2 separate regions of the Homo sapiens genome follow, and region 1 is reported to be linked to region 2. Evidence: microRNA targets listed by miRTarBase, many of them from high-throughput screens and not tested one by one. Region 2 holds a microRNA gene; the other region holds the end of a gene's coding sequence.

What was found. Region 2 holds the annotated microRNA hsa-miR-744-5p (UGCGGGGCUAGGGCUAACAGCA, at 2,890-2,911, opposite strand). A microRNA usually pairs through its seed, bases 2 to 8, with sites in the 3' UTR of a target mRNA and lowers its output. Matches are read on the target gene's strand: a 7mer-m8 pairs with bases 2 to 8, a 7mer-A1 pairs with bases 2 to 7 and ends in A, and an 8mer does both.
Region 1: the mRNA of BAG6 is a reported target of hsa-miR-744-5p. The part of its 3' UTR that is shown has no 7-base or 8-base seed match.

What each region holds. Positions count from the first base shown.
Region 1 is chr6:31,632,677-31,639,796 of GRCh38, reverse strand. It overlaps BAG6 (BAG cochaperone 6), which reads left to right. Exons shown (of 26, transcript NM_001387994.1): 25 at 151-297; 26 at 571-769. The coding sequence ends at 666. PRRC2A (proline rich coiled-coil 2A) reads right to left here. Exons shown (of 31, transcript NM_004638.4): 16 at 6,805-7,120; 17 at 6,150-6,418; 18 at 5,808-5,938; 19 at 5,432-5,561; 20 at 5,240-5,325; 21 at 4,820-5,044; 22 at 4,525-4,665; 23 at 4,332-4,403; 24 at 4,048-4,215; 25 at 3,748-3,830; 26 at 3,378-3,588; 27 at 3,189-3,287; 28 at 2,852-3,064; 29 at 2,661-2,755; 2 more. The coding sequence ends at 2,211. It overlaps MIR6832 (microRNA 6832), which reads right to left and starts at 6,010; the gene lies at 5,939-6,010. RefSeq lists a silencer at 4,955-5,118.
Region 2 is chr17:12,077,700-12,084,819 of GRCh38, reverse strand. MIR744 (microRNA 744) reads right to left here and starts at 2,921; the gene lies at 2,824-2,921. MAP2K4 (mitogen-activated protein kinase kinase 4) reads right to left here. Exons shown (of 11, transcript NM_003010.4): 3 at 3,290-3,464.

The sequences.
Region 1 (7,120 bases), not on the chromosome of region 2:
TGTAAAAACCACATCCTGGACTCTTAATTTCCCCTCTCTCCACTAGCATGGAGACTCAGTGGAGTGGTTGACTCATGGAAAGGGTGAGCCGGATGGTGGCACTGGATCTGACGTTGATCCTCTTTTCCCTCCCAACCCCCTGTCCCCCAGACGATGCAGGGTGAGGGCCCCCAGCTGCTTCTCTCAGAGGCTGTGAGCCGGGCAGCTAAGGCAGCCGGAGCTCGGCCCCTGACGAGCCCCGAGAGCCTGAGCCGGGACCTGGAGGCACCAGAGGTTCAGGAGAGCTACAGGCAGCAGGTGCCACCTTGAAGCAGAATAGGGATGGTCTAGTGGGAGGGGTTGGGCTAGGGTCCCTCTTCCCTGGATCCCTTCAGCGATGAACTGGTCAGCCTGGTGCTACCATTTGTTTTCCCCTTTGGCATCTGGGAAGGCTTGACAGTGCCACCCCGGGCTATTTGACAGTGTGCTTGGGGGGGGAAATGTTAGCTTCTGAGGGATGGCCTTGTGTGCTTGCTGGGATCATGGGGACTTGGCCAGCGTTTCTCCAACCTGCTTACTTTTTCTCTTTAGCTCCGGTCTGATATACAAAAACGACTGCAGGAAGACCCCAACTACAGTCCCCAGCGCTTCCCCAATGCCCAGCGGGCCTTTGCTGATGATCCTTAGCTCTTTGCTCTATGGCCCTTCCTCATCAGGGGACCGTTTCCCCCCTCTTCCTTCACAGTATTTAAGAAATAAAAGTCGGATTTTTCTGGCTGCTTTCTCTCTACATTGTCTCCATTAGGTAGTGTGTCCCTTAATCTTGTGTGAACTTTTTTAAATTAATACTTCCTTGGAACACTGTTGTGTTCTACTCAGCACGCTAAATTGTACAAGCCAGTTTTGATGTTTGTTTTTTTTTTTTTTTGAGACAGAGTATTGCTGTCTCCCAGGCTGGAGTGCAGTGGCCCGATCTCGAGCTCGGCTCACTACAACCTCCACCTCCCGGGTTCAAGTGATTCTCACTCATGCCTCAGCCTCCTGAGTAGCTGGGACTACAGGCGTCCGCCACGACGCCCGGCTAATTTTTGTATTTTTAGTAGAGACAGGGTTTCACCATATTGGCCAGGCTGGTCTCGAACTCCTGACCTTGTGATCCACCCGCCTTGGCCTCCCAAAGTGCTGGAATTACAGGCGTGGGCCACCGCGCCCAGCCTGATGTTTGTATTTTTTGTGCGAAAGCACTTTATATATAAATAAAAAACCTGTATTTTGAGTTGGGAGCATATTCCAGGTGCACACTAGCATAGAGCTCTCAAATTACCCATCAAAAAAAGTTTCTGAGCAGCTGCAGACCTAAGTATAGTCTTTAGCATAACTAGCATGCAGCGTTACCATGTGAAATCCCACTTAGTTTGACAATGCTGGAATTGGTCTATCCAATTCAAAGAGCCCCTTAAGTGTGCTCCAACATTGAGGCCTTAACAGAGATTTCCCCTTAGTTCATCATAAAGAACTGAAGTCCCATGGCTGCAAATTCTTTGCTAGTCCCTTTGAGATGCAGTTGAAGTCCCTTCTAAACCCCCCCATCCCCTACCTTGGCTAGTTTAGTGCTCTTATCAACTAAGCATGGCATAAGCTTAGAAAATTCCAGCTAGACCTCTTGGAACATGAGCTCACGGACATTTAACAGGCCTGCTGGAGAGTCCATGTGAAGACACTGGTTGATAACCCAGTAATGTTACAGATGTCCCACCAAGGCCCTAGATATGCAAAGGAAGCCATATTGGGACCAGCCCAGGTGTCAGCTGCAGACTGATAACCAGTTGACCTCGCTCACTGGCACAAAAAAGCAGATTTATCCAGCTGAGCTCAGCCCAAATTCCAGACTCACAAAAATTTAAAGATCCAATACGATGGTCATGTTTTTAGTTTCAACAGCTCACTGGAATAAGTAATGAATATTTCCCTGACTGAAACTACAGATCACTCAGCACCATGCTTTAAGACAATGCAAACAACTCATCCCCCAAATCATTGTAGAAGTTTTTTTTTTTAAATCCTTTTATTACTCTTTTTTAACAAACAGCCCCAGGGACAGGGGACCAGGGGAAGGGGGAGGAGGGGAAGTGAGGCCCCAGCCCCAGAACCCCTCCCCGCCCACCCCTTTCCCCCTTATATATTTATAATCTATATACAAGCCCCGGGGGTAGGGGGCAAGAGGAACTCCCTCAGCGGGGTGGGGGCAACCCAGGCTCCTTGTCCCCTCGGGACCCAGGCTCCTCTGCCCGTCGGGAGGGCCCTTCTCGAGGTGGCGGCCCTGTCCGCTCCCAAGGCTTAGGTATCCAGCGCAGGGCATCTGGTGGGGAGGCCTAGGGGACAGGCATGTGTTAAACAGTGAGTCACAGTGAGAGGTCAGCGATGAGACGGAAGGACAGGAAATCAGGTGGCAACTCGAATTTAGAGTTGGGGCCACAAGGGTTTCTCCTTCACCTGCTGGTAAAGGTCGACGCGCTGGGTGCGGAAGACTCCACTGTAGGTGGAAGGCGTGGCCTTGAGACGGGAATTGAGGCCAGAGAAGGACCTAAGGGAAGAAGGGCGTCTAAGGCAAGCCTAGGATCCAGACCCTGGTTCCAAAGTAAGGAAGCACTTGGAAAGTCCACATCCCTATTCCGTTTCACCTTCCAGTTGGGGGAGTCCGTGATGATCCAGGTCCCCCAAGGTTGCTGCTCAGTTTTTGATAATCCTGGAACGGCTTTAGTTCCACTGGATGCAGCTGAGGGGAAAAAAATCATGAGCTGCCTACCTTGAAATACAGAATCCCTACTCCCAAGTCTTGGCGCTCCCTAGCCCCTCAGTTCCTGTACCTTACCTCTGCTCGCCCCAAGCTAGCGGGGAAGGGCCTGGCAGGTGAAGGCAGCACCCGAGTAGCAGGAGCAGGTGGGGGCCGCACAGCCAGGCTGGGGGGCTGCAGAGCAGGGCCCACAGGTAACAGAGAAAGGGGAGGTGGGGCAGGAGGTGGTGCTGGCGGCAGGGAGCCAAAGTTCACCACAGGCAGCTGTGAGTCTACCATGGGTAGAAGCATCTGTAACAAGAAATTTGGGTGTGCATGTTGGGGGCAGGGAGGAATGTCAGAAAACCAGGGAAAATCAAAGCCAGCAACTGGACAGAGAAATCAAATGAAGGGGAAGTGTGAAGATACAATATACCTGCTGGGCAGGAGCCCCTGAAGGGAGAAAGCCACTTTGGCCACCAGGCTGCAGAGGAGTAGAATAAAAATCCGAAGGGGATGGCAGATCCTGGCGTACCTGTCGGGAAACAGGGAGAAATATATCAACCCCCACAAAATCATTCTCCCTACCCTATCCCCCAATATCTAATACCTGCCCCCCTCTTACCTGAAGCAACGATGTGTCAGGCAAAGGACTGGGGCAGAAAGCCGGAGAGTAGAGGAAGGAAGGTGGAGGGTAGAGAACTCCTCCAGCCGGCAACTTCCCCAGCTCTGTAGCTTGCATTGTGGAGAAATCCAGAAACTGGCCCTTGAGAGCTAACCCAGAGAGCAGTGCTGAGGGAGGGGCTGGGCCGGGGGGTAGGTATAGGGGCTGTGATCTGAAAATAAATTGTGGGGAGAAAAGCTGTTAGGAAGCCAGAGTCCTAGCAATGCCTTAAGTCCACTAGCTTCTAGTACCCTAGAACTGTGTCTTCCCCTTCCCTCTCCCCGAAACACATCTCCAAGTACTTCTGTGATCCACAGGCATCGAGTCTTACCTGTAAGGGTGCAGTGAGGGTGTCCCAGGGCGGAAGCCTCCACTGTTTGGATGTAATTGAGAGTCCATGGCTCCCCCAGAGATCTGCAGGAGAGGAGCACGGTTGAAACAGCTTTAGTATCTGTGGTCAAGAAAAAAGATCACCATCCCACCCATAGAAGCAAAAAGTAGGGAGAAAAATGATGTGACAAAGTGGTATCTCACAACTCTGCAACGTAGAAAGGCTTGATTATAAATACATACCAGGCAGAAAAAAATTATTATTCACTGAAGGGGTCATGCAATGGGAAGCGGGGCCTACCTGAGAACTGGAAGGCCCAGCACTGCCATAGAAAACCTCAGGATACAGGCGCTGGCCTGAGGAGCTGGGCTCCGGGACACAGTGCCCAGAATCCAGGTTCTTGGATTGTGGCTCAGCAGAGGCAGCAGCACTGGGAAGCAGCTCCCAGTCTCGTGATACAGGAATGGCCTGGGAAGGAGAGGCCTCGTGGAGAGGGATGTCTGGCATCCTGGACGCCCTGGTCACTCCCAGCAATCTTCCCCAGAAATCTTGGGCCTTTCCACCAAACTCTTACTCCCACTTACCTCAGTGACTGATGCTGTTAGCTCCTTCTCTGCTTTCAAGCTGTCTCCTACCACTAGGCGTAAGTCTGAGTCCTGTGATCACAAGAAGGCAGGAGACATTGTCCCGTGACAGACATGTGTCCTCTATGTCCCACCTTTAGTCCTTCCCTTCTCTCCACCCAACTCAGGATACCCAGATCCAGCCCACACAGACCTTGTCACTAGTGCCAAACTGGACTGGGGGACCAGGTCGATGGGATGGCCGAATGGGGCCAGGCTCTGTGCCTCGGTCTGTACGCTGTGATCGTTCTGTGCCAATGGGGCCAGGGGGCAGAGGCTGCTCCCGGGGCAGCTCCTGGATTGGGCACACAGTAAAGTGCATTGGGGGAGGGAAAGGGAAATCCAAATTGGAATGCCCAGAACACACACGCAGAGAGAAAAAGCAGAAAAAGGTAGGGCCAAAGTCAGATTCCTGGAAACATTCCCCTTATCCTTTTTTGGTCTTTTACCTTTCTGTCCCCATCGTGGGGGGCAGGTGGTGGTCTCCTAGGAGGTTCAGAGCCAGGTGGACCCTCACAAGGAACAGCATTCAGGGGTGAGGAGCCTCCAGGCCTCTTGGGGGGTCCCTCTGCTGCCCCCTTGAGTCCTCCATCAGGGGAACTTCGCTGGCTGCAGGGACCTGATGACACCTGAGAATCCCCACTCAGGTCCACCCCACTGTCAGACTGACTCATCTGAGAGGAGTGGAGAAGGAGCTAGTTAAGTCAGGGTAGAAAGCACCCCAATACCTGACTGATGCACACATACAAACTGCAGAAAGGGGACAGCCAAGTGAGAGAACAGCTCCAGACTCAACCCAGAGCAGGTGGGGGGTATGACCAGTGCTCAAAAAAGTCCCAGCTCAGACACACCCTCCCACCCTCACTCACTTCTGTGCCAGCCACATCCTCAAAAGGACTCAGGGGCTCCATCCAAGGCTCCATGGAGCTGGGCCGGTAACTCTTTCGGCTAGTGGCTGGAGAAGGGAGCACCAACCAGAAGAGAAGTGAGGAGATGACAGTTCAGAAGCCCCTCTCATTCTTAACCCTTCTACCATAGTCCTTTCACTCAGCTTTACTCACCAGTATGTAAACGGTTCCAGATGTGAGGGGTCAGGGCCTCTGTGCCTGTATCTCTGGACTCTGCCTGAGGGCCTGGGCCCTCAGGCTTAGAGCCCAAGAATCCAGAGCTATGAGGAGGTGGCAAAGATTCCTACAGATGAGAAGGGCCAGAAGCAAAACATGAATTGGGTGGGAATTGGGAATTATAGGAAGCCAGGACAGAGTGGGGTGACACAGGGTGTGGGGACAACAAGGGAGACACATGGGAGACTAATACTGAGAATTCTGGAGTAAAAACACAGTGAAAGAAACAGGAAAGAAAACAGAGAAAACATAACCCAGAAGAATTTTCACGAGTAAGAGTGCAGTGAAGCACAATCTCAAACCCATCCCTTACCTCCTGTAGCAGCTCTGGTTTTCTGGGAGGCCGCTCCCGACGTTTAGGGGGAAAGGGACTAACCCCGGCAGAGTCCCGAGGAGTCCCACCCACCCCTCTCACCATTGGCCCCGGCTCCTCAAAGTGGGGGTCTGGGAAAGAGAAAAAGGGTCAGCATCTGCCTGGCTCTGCCACTGACCCTAACTTTTCCTCTCTACTCCACCTCCCAATTCTTCTACCCTTGCTCCCTGCAGAAACGCACCCAGCAGCAGGGTCCCTAGGCCAGGTTCTCCACCCGCTCCCTCCAGCACTTGACCTTCTCTGGGGATGGAGATATTCCCACCCATAACCCCTCCAGCTTACCAGAACTGAGGCCGCTGTTGACCCTCTGGGGCTCGTATCGGGTTGGGGGCCTAGGAGAGGGGCCCTGAGGGGCTTGGGGAAGCCCAGGCTTGTGCCTTGGATGACCCCCTGGTGCAGTTACACTCCCTTGACGGCTACTAAGCTGGGCCAGAGCCTGTTGGATGCCAGCAGGGTTGCTGTGGATAACTTGGTCCAGGCGGAAGACAGCAGAACTGCTGGGAGGTGGGGGAGGCAGGGGAAGCCCCGGGGGACGCTCCTCTGGAGGACGACTGGAGAAAACAGAGCATTAGCTCCAGTATCCACTAAATCGTTACTTTTTCCCACAAGTTATGTTTCCCAACTTCTGCTTACAACCTATTCTCTTCCCTATTAAAGTCCAGGTGTTTTTGAGTCCTTCTAAGGATTCCTATGCATACAGATGCACAGACTGGAAAGCAAAGAACCAGCAATGAATACATAGGTGGGTGTTCTTGACTCTAACACCCTACCAACCGCTTTCCAGTTGCCTTAGCCAGACATGGAAATCCTACTGACATTCTAGAGCCCATGGCCCCTCAGGCCACAATCTCCACTCCACCCAAACTTATCTTTCCCTCAGGCTTTTTCCCCCTCCTCCAATTTTTAAACCACAATAAATTTGTTTGTTCCTACCCACCTTCGGTTCTTGGGAGAGGGCCAGCTCCTCTTGTCGCCTCGTCCTGGCCCGGTCCTTCCTCCAGGACCCCCACCGCCTCCTCCACTGCTGCTGCCACTGCTGCCAGCCTTGCCCCCTGGGCCAGGGCGCCGATTCTGCCGTTCCATGCCTGGCCGCTGACTTGAGAAGCTCCGTTTACTCAAATCCTTGGCTCTCTGGCTCAGATCTCCGCGGGACATGGCTGAAATACCTGGTACGGCTCCACCTCCACCTCCCCCAGGAGTTCCCACAGCCTTGGGTGTCAGCAGTACTGGTGGGGGTGCCTCTTTGTCCCCTC
Region 2 (7,120 bases):
CCTCTTCAAACATTTGGTCTGAACTCTGGGCTTTACCCCGCTACATTTAACCAGAGAGCTGGTTAACATATAGATGAGGTACTCCTCATCTATATGTTAATTGATGTGTTGTATTGCCATCCTCTCCCATTTCCACCTGCCAGAGAGCTGAGCAGGCACCTACTTTATGTAGAGGACAGTGACTGTTCATGTCTAATGTTTTCATTCAGTGGTTACCCCACCACCGTGCAAAACAGGACACTAAATAAATGTTATTTGTAAAGGATACTGATCACAGTTAGAAGTAAATCCCTGGTAAGAGTTGAAGGTTGTTCTCCCTGAGCTTTAAGAAACCCCAGAGGCAACACTGGCTTTGCCCTAGGCAGCCCTAAGACTAGTCATTCAGGCACAAGTATACAAATTACTCCCACTCACAGGAGAGCAAGACCCTTTTCCCAAGCACGTGCAATTAAAACTAAAGGGTAAACCATGTTCACATCTTAGGTCCTAATGCAGAAACTCACCGATAGCTTGGGAGACTGTCCTCAAACCAAACATCAAAAAATTGTTTTAAGTATAACTCTTACAATGTTACCTCACTAAATCTGATTATATCAAAACTGATTTTTAGATTAAGTCTTTGGGGTAATTAACTCTGGTTACTAAGAAGTCACCTTTTTCAAATATTTCTTATATATGGCAAAATAAATTTGGGGAAGGAATTCCTCAGAACTAAAAATGAGGAATAATACAAAGAAAAAAATCAAGCTAATATCACAGTTCACTTTTCTACAGATATTGCAAGTAAATCTTAAGGATCATTTCCAGCTTAACATCTAATAATGCAATCCTTCTTTATTCTCAAAGTGTGTATTAAGATGTTAGCACAGAGTTACTTCAAGCGTGTTTCTCATTTCACCAACAGCAATGGAAAGCTCTCAGCTGTGTGAACCACCGTCTCATGGTTCCTTTAAAACCGTAAAGTCTCAAATCAAACACCTCCTTAATCATACATTGATTCTGTATATTTGTGCCTGTCAATCCAGTCAATGTACCTAAATGAGGAATGAATGAACTCTCTCAAGTGTGATGAAAGACTATTCTTCTTTGAAGAAACCAATAATAAATGCATTCTTTAATTCAGAGATGGCATACATCTGTCATCAATTGGTATCAAATTTTAATGCATATTAATGCAAAAACACTTATTCTTCCAGTATTAATGAAGTCATGGAATCCAAAGGTACTCCTCAACTATATGTTAATTGATGTGTTGTACTGCCATCCTCTCCCATCCCCAACTGCTATGCTTGTTCAAGAATTCGAGATGGTAAACGAAGCTAGGTAGTACCATGTGGTGGGTATACATGTGACAGCAACCAGTTTGTAGGTCTCATGACTGCCTTGAAAGTTCTTCAAGTACAGCTGGGATTTTTAATAGCATCCCAACTGGAACTGTCACAGTAGCCAGTAGCCACTGATAATGTAACATTACAAATGATGGACAACAATTTCCTATTTTCATTCTTGAATTCCTACAAAACTTGAGTAAGCATTATACAACCCAAAATATTATCAAATTAATCAGTGAGAAAAACTTTTAAGTGTCAAAAGGAAGTACCCTCTTTACCTTTATGACCTTTTTAACAATGGCTAAAATCAATCCATATTACTAAAATGTTTAATAATGTTCATCAACAAAGTTGAAGCACACATAACACAAACTGTAAAAAGCAGGAAATAATTTTTTAAAATTACTTTCCCTAGTACCTGAAAGAAAAGTTTACAACTTTAACTATATAGGAAACCTTTCCCTTAAGATCCAGCCAACTAAAACTGGATGTCACACACAGGTAGCACAAAGGGACAACACAACATTCATCCAGGAGTCTAAATAAAATGACTCTTTCCACTTACACTGCAGTGGCACAAAATAGGAATACAGAAATCATTTCACATTCCAATAAAACATTTTATTTTAACACATAATGCAGAGTTCTTCACCTGTGCATCTTTAGAGGTCTACGGTTTGTATACAAAATGTTGTGTATATACACCTGCCTATGAAAAGTCTATAGTTCTCACCACATTTTAAAAATACAGCCAAAAACAATGTTAGGAACCCATAGAGAGAATCATAAAAATTTTCCCTACCACTAATTTAACATTACTTTCATATGACCCAGCAAAAAGAAATGCTCAACAGTGAAGGATACTAAAATAGTTACAGTAAGGTTTGGCTCACAACAGACTTCTACACAGAAAGCATTTTATTTTAATTTAAATTCATTCTCAAATGTCAAGAAAAAACTAAGGACTCTTATCAACCACTCTGACAAACTCTCAAAATAGGACACTAATAGGAAGATGATTAGCTTGGACTATATGCAAATCCATTCTGAATTCTTGTAAACTGAAACATTTTTGTTCCCATAGGAATTTTAAGCTCAGAGAGGGTATGGCCACAGCTAGCTTTTTTTCCTTTGTTTTTGCAAGTTGTTCCCCCTGTTGCTGATTTTCCTGAAATATCTTACATACAGCAAAGATTTGTTAAACATCTAAACAAACAAATGAATAAATTACAATTACATGAAACTAGGAGTCAGATGGAAACCACCAGTTCTTTACAGGTACCAGCATAAGCTTGCCAGGTATTGTCTATGGATCAAATCTCTGTTTCTGGCCATTTTTTTTTTTTAATGAACATATTAAGTGGCACGACACAATAAGGACAAAATGTGACAACATTATCACAAGGTATGCATTTCAGTACAACTTTAAAACCAGGGAACAGGGCAGTACTGAGTAGAGATGAAATAAACAAACAGAAGCCGAGCCGGTCAGGACCGAGTAAGGTTGAGGTTAGTGGCAACAGCATGTGCGTGGTTTCCAGGAAACCTTCAGTAAGACTGCTGTTAGCCCTAGCCCCGCACCTTGCCCAACCCAGTGTGCTGCGTCTTCTTCCAGCTCCCGCCTGGCTCAGTGCAGCACTGCCCTGCTCCCAGGGGTGCAGCCGCCCAGCCTGAACTCACCTTGGCAGTAGAAGGGCCTGAAGTTTAAAACATGTTAATGCATCATGCCAAAAATGCAATCAACATGCACACTTCATACACTCATGTTTCCAAAGAGATAGAAAATGTGCCACCAATAAGAAACCTCTACACAGAACACCCTCAAAGGAGTTGGAGAAACAATTTTTTAAACACCCACATTTACCACAAAAGTAGGAACACAACAACAGTGGTATTACTGCACCATGAAATTTCACCTAATGGATTAAAGTACCAAAAATAATCATGGCATCACCTACTTTAACTGCCATTATTTGCCCACTTGGTTTGTGGACCATTTTGTTGACAGAACCATAAGCTCCTCGTCCAATTTCTCCAAGGTCTTTCAAGTCCTCTGCAGTGAAATCCCAGTGTTGTTCAGGGGAGATCTTCAGTTTTCCTGATGACTCAATGCTGTGTGTTCTCAGTCTCTCTCTGTTAAAATATTGGGAAGCAATTTTTCCACATTTTAAATAGGTTTTAACTTTTTTCTTTTAGTACTGATTAATGTGTGGGAAAAATGTTTTCTAAATTACTAAAATAGTCTGACCTCCAGGTTTTTGAAGTTTTTCATTTGTGTCATCCTGGTTTTTTACACACTGGATTAAGAATGATCTAGATTTAGGTAGTCAATAGACACAGCTTCAACGGGATTCATAAAAACAAATTGCCAAGAAGATTTTTAAAAATTCCCATTTATTGATTAAACTAATTCTGCAGATCAGTTTTCATTTCTAAATATAAGATCTTATTCAAACTTGGATGATGGTTTATCCAAACAGCATTATCAAGTGAGAATCCCAAGAGCTGCAAACCTTATTGCGAAAAAGTTCTTACCCTATCTTACCCAACATTAGTTATTCCAGTGCCTCAATCTTCAGTTAGTACAACTATTCCCAAGGTTTGCTGTACCTTACAATCACCTGGGGGAGATTTTAAAAATCTCAATGCCCAGGTATCGTCCCATAGCAATTACATCTGAATTATCCAGGGACAGGAGTCAGAAAACAGTATTTTTAAAGACCCCCAGATGATTCCAGTAATGTTTGGGAACTAGTGCCTTAGTATACTGTCCTGTTCTTGTTAATACCATCCTGAGGTGGGAGAACAGTTAACTGAATAGCTAGCTGGCTCTAAGAGGAAAATTGCCATGTGCTATTCAAAATTGAAATTTTCAGCCCTCGTTCGATAAAGCAATGGGATAAAAAATGAGTGGCTCGTAGACAAAAGAGCTCACTCATTACATATTTCCATTAAATAAAAAATCATCTCCAAAATCTCAACCTGGAGATCAAAGTATTAATAACTTCTAACCATGCTTTGTAAAAAAGTAAATCCAATGAAAAATGTAAAATCAATCTGTTTCTCTCTCTTGCTCTCTCTCACACACACACCAAACCCCAATGTGTAGGAACAAACTATCAACCATACACACAATGAAAGAATTCATTAAATATCAACTACATTTTTCAGTTTCATACTAAATGATCAGGATCTCTTTTAAACTCTGATCCTATGATGCAAACAAGCAAAGTTTATGTGCTTGGTCATTATTTTTCTTCTTCCAAAATTTAGGAAAGTTTTCTCCAATTAGTAGAATGGTTTTCTGTAGCAACCTTTAAGGTTCCCAAAAAACTTAGAACTTTAAAATCTACCCCCACTCTGAGAATAATCGTATGTACTAATATTAAGGTTCAAAGTTACACTTCAAAGATTCATACACTTGGTCTAAATAACAATTTACTAAATCAGTGTTCCAAATAACAGACTTTCAAATCATACTAAGTGATAAGCTTTCATTCATACAAGTGCTTTTCAGTTCAAAGTCCTTTCACCCATATTATTTGATACTCTAGCATCCAGAATCACAAGAAGCCCGGAAATCAGTGGCATAAGTGACCATTTAGGTGAAGATGAAGCTGGAACTGATCTTTTAAGATGGAAATCAGGTCTAGGCAAAAATAGGAAACTCTTCTTGGTAATCTTTTTCATGAAGTAGACAGATTAAGCCTGAAAAAAGTTCTAACATGAAGAAGTTCCATGTATAATGATTATTGTTCTATAATCTTTGGCAAGTAAATACTATCTCAATGGCAAAATCACTGGTGAAATATACAGCACCAATCTACCACTGAGGGAAGCTGAAAAAAAGTTAATTAAAATTACTTGTAAATCAGAAGCAAAATTTTTTACAGTGTTCGCTAATTGAAGGGCTGTGGCAGACAGGCTCCAGGAAGTCCTCATGATCCCCACCTTCTTAGTGTTCGTATTTTTGTGTAGGCATATTTCTTTGGGTGTGAGTGGGACCTGTGACTTACCTCTAACCAAGAGAATATGGTAAAGATGATATAATATGACTCTCATGACTACATTGCTATATAATACTTATGCTAGCATTCTTGAGAACTGAAATGAAAGATATTTCATTACTATATAGAAATTACAGAATGAAAACAGTTACAATATTATGTCTTATTTTAAAGATCAAATTTTAGTATTATGGAATATCTCTACTAATAGTTTAGCTCACTGTAGTTTCTTTTTAAAACTGAATAAGTTGAAAGCGAAGTGATACAGGGTACCTACTTGGGCTAATATCCAAAAACTGAATAAGGTGTCAGATGCACAATTCTGTAAATATACTAAATATACTAAAAGCAAATGAACTATACACTTTAAATGTGTAACTGCAGAATATGTGAATTACATCTCAGCAAAGCTGCTAAAAGAGGAGAATGTGATTCCTACCCAGAGTTCCAAGTTTCTCATTTAGAAAGAAAAAGTGCTGTAAAAACCACAGAAAAACATGCCACAGTTATGACATCACCAAGGCATGTTCATACATTCGTCTTTATACTGGGCTAGCGATCTTTCCAGCAAAACTGAGTCCATTTCACAGCAATTGCTTTAACAGTAGGTACAACCACAATGGCTTCCACAGGACTATACACAGATACAGCACTGGACTGACTAGATACAGGAACTGGACCAGAACCTTTCCATTAAACTCTGGAGTCAATCAATTTCTGTCCTAAACTACGTAAGAGGCCTAGGAAAGAAAGAACATAAACAGTAGAAAACACACCCAATGAGAAGATTGGTGAAAAATACAAACCAATAAAGATGTAAAGTTGCCCTTACTTGTTCATAAATATTTGCCTACAATTATACTCTTAAAGAAAAAAAAAGTTCCCTGACTTTTCCTTGGGATATCACTTTCTTCAGAATGGGGACTATATTTTATCAAAAATAATTCCTAGTACAATTGGATTGTTTGTAACACAAAGGAAAAGTGCTTGAGAAGATGGACACCCAATTTCCCACGATGTGATTATTACACATTGCATGCCCATATCAAAACATCTCACATACTCCATAAATATATACACCATGTACCCCCCAAAATAAAAATAATTCCTAAATATCCCTCATCTTTCCCTTCATAATTTTCTGTGCATTATTTTATACAGATCACCCTTACCTGCCTCCAATGAACACTACATAAGGTTCCAACCCCAAGGTTCTCATTACCAACCTGGGAAACTCAGACAACAGCCGCTGTGGCAGTAACTATCAGCTGTCACCCAACATCCATTCTCCTCTTCATCCTCCCTAACAGGATCCTCATTTATGTGTGGCAGCAATGCACCCAGCTAAAAGGCTACATTTCCCAACTACTATGAACTGAACTGTGTTTCCTCTCAAAATCCACATGTTAAGGCCCTAACCCCAAATGTGACTGTACTGAAGACAGGGCCTATAAGAAGATAATGAAGGTTCAATGAAGGTTAATGAAGGGTGGGGCCCTAATCCACTGGGATTAGTGTCCTTACAAGAAGAGAGACCACAGAGTTCACTCTCTTCTCATATGCACAAGAGGTCACTTGAGCTCAGAGTGAGAGGTGGCCACCTATAAACCAAGGCAGGACGCCTCAGGTTAAAACCTACCTTGCCAGCACCTTAATCTTGGACTCTCCAGTCTCGAGAATTGTGAGAAATAAATTATGTTGTTTAAGCCACCTAGTATGTGGTATTTTGCAGGCCAAGCTAAGTCACCAACATTCCTTGCAGTTAGAGGTGGAAAATAGGAA